2 separate regions of the Homo sapiens genome follow, and region 1 is linked to region 2. A link means that fine-mapping ties the variant in region 2 to the expression of a gene that starts in the linked region. Tissue or cell type: atrial appendage. Region 2 holds a variant in brackets; the other region holds the start of a gene. All regions are shown on one strand. Distances are between the middles of the regions.

Region 1 (2,686 bases), 41 kb before region 2:
CCCTCCCTGTTCTGTGGTATAGATTTTGTCTTTTCCACATCAGTCCAGGTCTTCAGAGTCACTATGAATTATTATTACCATTTTAAAGATGAAGAAATTGAGCCTCAGTGAGGTTCAGTTAGCTAAAGGCACACAACTCTAATAAACTGACAGAATTCCAGGTTCTGATTTAAATTCTATTGCCCTCTCTTGAAAATAAACATGGACAGCTTATATGAGCTTTTGTGTATATATTTTCTGGTCTAAATCTGCGGCAGATATGTGTGTCTTTCTGCGCATGTATATAGTAGATCAAATATGTTAGCTCTATTGACATTTCTTAGAAATAAATATCCTGTTATCAATGATAGTGTTTACAAATTATTTATTTAGAACTTACCTCTTTTCAAGAAAAGGCCTTGTGATTGCTCTCTGCGAATTATAATGCATGAGTATACCTCTTTGTTATTTTGTTTTGTTTCAGACAATTATCTCTGGTTGATGCAGATCACTTGGAGGCTTTTGGGGCTGTATATAACAGGTCAGAACATCTATTTAATGTCAAACTTTATCTACTAGGCAACTTGGAATTCTCAGCCAGCACCAAATATTCAAATCCAACTTCCACACCCCGACAACAGAGGGGTTCCGGGTGTAGGTGTAGTGCTGGTGCACCCATGAGGGTGTTTTTCAGGAATTCTGGAGGTGGTGCTGGAGAGAACACGCTTCTTCTACACGCGCCCCCTACCAGTTTGGTATGCACCTGCAGCCCCAAAGAAGAACTGGCGGGACTCGAGTGTGGCCGTGTCAGACGTGGCAAGAAAAACCAGCAGTTGCCTTTTCATCTCTTTTCTGATGATCTAACCATGAAGTCCCCAGTATTTGAGCATTTAAGGCAGAATGTAAATTCATAATTTAAGAAGATTTTTTGTTACGTGGCTAGCCCAGGTACTGACCGCTGCGGGGGCGGGCTCACACAGTTCCCCCGCTGGCAAGTTTTGTGACTTGCTTTGGAAAACCCGGGAATTGCACCCTCTGCCCTTGGCAAGGTGTGAGCTTCCAGGATCTCTCCGCTGCGACTTCGGGTGTTAGGGTTTTTGGGCTCTTTCCGGGACCCAAGTTCCAGGGCAAGAAGGTCTGCTCGGCGGCCCGCCTCGGGGCCCCGCCCACTTTGGCCAGGGTCGGAGCCGCCCGGAGCGGGAGCCGGAGCCCGAGCGGCCGCGGCCCCTTTAAGGAGCAGCTCTGCGGTAACCCGAGCCCGCAGTCCGGGCGGGCGCGACGGCCGCCGCGGTAGCTGGAGCCTCCGCGACTGCACCTCCAAGCGGCCCGGAACCCGCGGCTTCCCTGGCTCCCGTGAGCATCTCACCGGGCGGCACTGGCCAGCGCCAGCCCTCGGGCCGGCCCGGATGAGCAGACTCCTGTAGACACCCGCCGCCCTCTCCCGGCTCGGCGCAGCCGCCGCCCGCGCGCGACTCGCCCCGGGACCCGGCACAGGTGACGCCGTTTGGAGGGGGGGTTGGGGAGGAAGGCGGGCTTGCCTCGCCCCGCGGCTCCCCCGCGCCAGCCGCCAAGCGCAGCCCGCGGAGAGGGGTGCCGCGGCTTCCCGCCCCTGGCCTAGCGCGGCCGAGAGCTCCTGCGCCTGGAGGCTGGGTGGGCGTCCGGCGCGCGGGAGGCGGCCCGGGGCTCCCGGGCGGGCTCCGGCAGGTGTGTGCGGAAGGCTCAGCATCGTCCCCGCCCGGCGGGCCACGGCGTCGCTCCGGGAGCAAATGGTGTCCCGGGGCCCGCGGCCCCCGCGCCGCCCGGGCGCCCCGCATTCCTCTCGCGTTTCTCGGGCTGCACGATTCCGGCTGCCCTGTCTGCCTGGCGGTGCCTCTCGGGTCTGAGCTTAAAGCGGGTGGGTGCAAACCTTTGGGCATCCAGGGAGAGCTTTCTTGTTAGAGCCCACACACAATCGGGCGCATCAAGTGGGTAAGTCCCCCTCCCCCGCCGCCACCTTCTGAAACAAGTAGCTCTTATTTACCCTTGCAGTTCTCAAGTGGGTCCCATTTTTAGCCACTGAGTGCTGAAAAGTCTAGTGGGAAGGGACCAGGCGTAGAGTCGGAGGGAGAAATTGGTTTCTATTTCCATCTTTACCTCTGTAACCCCTAAGTGCCTCGGTTTACCCAGCCATGAAATGGGATTCGTAATGCCAGCAGTTTCCTACCCCTCCAAGACGGCAGAAAAACCTCTGTGAAAACACTTTGAGTCTAAATTCATTTAAGAGTCGCTGTTGCTGGTCTGTATATTTTTAATTGTACACACATTTGAGTGTTAATGTGGTGCACACTTTTATATGAAATTATGAAATTTACTTTAAAGACTGATCTTGGATAATGTTTAATCCAAATACCAGTTTGGAGAAGATGGAAGAGTTTGTGTGGACCCTAGGAATTGATGTGTGAAATAGGAAAAAAGATTTAATAAAATCTTTACGCAGTCATAAATGGAGTTGAGAAAAATTGACCTTGGATTGTGGTGTTTTAAGTGAGTTACTCCCGTGCCAGCGCATGGTGTCGATTGAAATGTAGCTTCATCTTTGTGTAGCCGATTAAGGTAATAAGTTAGAGAATCCCAGCTCCCTTTTAATTGTGCTATATATGAGGAATTTTTATCCTTGCTTATCTTTTCCTTAAATTGGGCGAAACGAAATTAGAAAAGTGTATTCCCG
Region 2 (2,686 bases):
GAGGATTAGGAAACATTGACAAGCAAAAAGAAAAAATGATGCCCCAATCTCACAACCTATATAATTATATTATTTACTTACTTAACATTTACATTTAGGAATGTACTTTTTTCCTATATACATACGGGTTTATGCATATGTCAAAAACAGCATTTCTCATATAAATATATAATATGTATATTACAAAAATGTGATCAAAACTAAAATTTAAATTTTCATTTTACATATTGAAGTGGTTCTGGCAATCTTGGGTCAGAAAGCAAGGAACCTATCAAAGACTAATGGGACTGTGTCAGAAGGACACAAGATCCAATATGAAGGCTCTTCTGTTGGCTTAAAATGTGACATTTTGATCATCAATTAGAATAATGACTATGGTTGATTGAAATCCATTGACTCGTAAGTTCTTAATTATATTTTTAAAAAATGAAAGGAGAAAGCAAGCCAGTTGGGCAGTCTTGCTTGACGTCTCATGTGGGTGCTGTTAAATGGCAGTTGAGGCTGGAATTATCTAAAGGCTCATTGGTAGGAGTTCAGTGGGAGAGTATCTATATGTGGTCCTTCCGTGTAGCTTGGGCTTCTCACAGCCTCATAATTGTGTTCTGAACAACATTTCAAGAGTAATTGTTCCAAGAGACCCAGGAGGAAGCCGCAAGACTTCTTAGGACCTGGCTTCAGAAGACTTACTACATAGGTAATTCCAGTATATTCTATTTATCAAGTGAGTTGCTAAGGGCAGTTCAGATTTAAGAGGTAGGAAATAAGACCACCTCTTGATACGAGGAACATTTTGCACATACAGGGAGGGAAGGAATTGATGTGGCCCTGTTCAGACACTATCCGTATCTTGATTTGTCAATGTTGGGTAATAATGTTAGATAGTATTTTCTTGCTGTGGTGGACAAGAATTTAATGTTCATACCTCTATTTGCCTTCCCTTCTTCCTCCCAATGTAGTTAGGGAATGCTAGTTGTCACTCAGTTCCTTTTAAAACTTTAAGTATTCTTATTTCTGGTCCTATAGCACCCCTTGATACTTAATTTTTTCTTTTTTTTTTTTTTTTTGAGACAGAGTCTCATTCTGTTGCCCAGGCTGGAGTGCAGTGGCACTGTCAGGGCTCACTGCAGCCTTGACCTCCCAGGGCCAAGCGATCTGCCTGCCTCAGCCTCCTGAGTAGCTGAGACATTCGCCACTTTACCTGGCTAATTTTTAAAAATTTTCTATAGAGATGGGGTCAGCCTATGTTGCCCAGGCTGGTCTCAAACTGCTGGGCTCAAGTGATCCTCCTGCCTCAGCCTCCCAAAGTGCTAGGATTACAGGCATGATTCACCATCCCTGGCCTCTTGATACTTCATTTATTTATTTATTTATTTATTTTTTATTATACTTTAAGTTCTAGGGTACATGTGCACAACATGCAGGTTTGTTACATATGTATACATGTGTCATGTTGGTGTGCTGCACCCATTAACTCGTCATTTACATTAGGTATATCTCCTAATGCTGTCCGTCCCCCCTCCCCCCACCCCATGACAGGCCCCGGTGTGTGCTGTTCCCCATCCTGTGTCCAAGTGTTCTTATCGGTCACTTCTCACCTATGAGTGAGAACATGCAGTGTTTGGTTTTCTGTCCTTG[C/T]GATAGTTTGCTCAGAATGATGGTTTCCAGCTTCATCCATGTCCCTACAGAGGACATGAACTCATTCTTTTTTATGGTGCATAGTATTCCATGGTGTATATGTGCCACATTTTCTTAATCCAGTCTATCATTGACGGACATTTGGGTTGGTTCCAAGTCTTTGCTATTGTGAATAGTGCCACAGTAAACATACGTGTGCGTGTGTCTTTATAGCAGCATGAATTATAATCCTTTGGGTTTTGACCCAGTAATGGGATGGCTGGGTCAAATGGTATTTCTACTTCTAGATCCTTGAGGAATTGCCACACTGTCTTCCACAATGGTTGAACTAGTTTACACTCCCACCAATGGTGTAAAAGTGTACCTATTTCTCCACATCCTCTCCAGCACCTGTTGTTTCCTGACTTTTTAATGATCGCCATTCTAACTGGTGTGAGATGGTATCTCATTGTAGTTTTGATTTGCATTTCTCTGATGGCCAGTGATGATGAGCATTTTTTCACGTGTCTGTTGGCTGCATAGATGTCTTCTTTTGAGAAGTATCTGTTCATATCCTTTGGCCACTTTTTGATTGGGTTGTTTGATTTTTTCTTGTAAATTTGTTTAAGTTCTTTGTAGATTCTGGATATTAGCCCTTTGTCAGATGGGTAGATTGCAAAAATTTTCTCTCATTCTGTAGGTTGCATGTTCACTGATGGAGTTTCTTTTGCTGTGCAGAAGCTCTTTAGTTTAATTAGATCGCATTTGTCACTTTTGGCTTTTGTTGCCATTGCTTTTGGTGTTTTAGTCATGAAGTCTTTGCCCATGCCTATGTCCTGAATGGTATTGCCTAGGTTTTCTTCTAGAGTTTTTATGGTTTTAGGTCTAACATTTAAGTCTTTAATCCATCTTGAATTAATTTTTGTTTAAGGTGTAAGGAAGGGATGCAGTTTCAGCTTTCTACATGTGGCTAGCCAGTTTTCCCAGCACCATTTATTAAATAGGGAATCCTTTCCCCATTTCTTGTTTTTGTCAGGTTTCTCAAAGATCAGATGGTTGTAGATGTGTGGTA

Direction of the effects. Alleles are on the strand shown, and positions count from the first base shown. SD is a standard deviation of normalised expression in the study named.
With allele C in place of T in region 2, the expression in atrial appendage of the gene that starts at base 1,211 in region 1 is lower (small effect, 0.28 SD a copy in GTEx).

Evidence for each region. PIP is the estimated chance that this variant, and not a neighbour inherited with it, causes the effect.
Region 1: TLCD4 starts here. The variant in region 2 is fine-mapped to the expression of TLCD4 in atrial appendage (GTEx, PIP above 0.99).

What each region holds. Positions count from the first base shown.
Region 1 is chr1:95,116,145-95,118,830 of GRCh38, forward strand. TLCD4 (TLC domain containing 4) reads left to right here and starts at 1,211. Exons shown (of 7, transcript NM_152487.3): 1 at 1,211-1,473. It overlaps TLCD4-RWDD3 (TLCD4-RWDD3 readthrough), which reads left to right and starts at 1,779. Exons shown (of 8, transcript NM_001199691.1): 1 at 1,779-1,947. RefSeq lists silencers at 1,218-1,364, 1,292-1,571, 1,652-1,701.
Region 2 is chr1:95,157,142-95,159,827 of GRCh38, forward strand. All of the region lies in intron 5 of TLCD4 (TLC domain containing 4), which reads left to right. The region is part of intron 5 of TLCD4-RWDD3 (TLCD4-RWDD3 readthrough); the gene reads left to right. Among named protein-coding and RNA genes, the nearest start is that of TLCD4-RWDD3, 41 kb to the left of the region's middle. The variant C/T (reference allele first, on the strand shown) is at 1,636.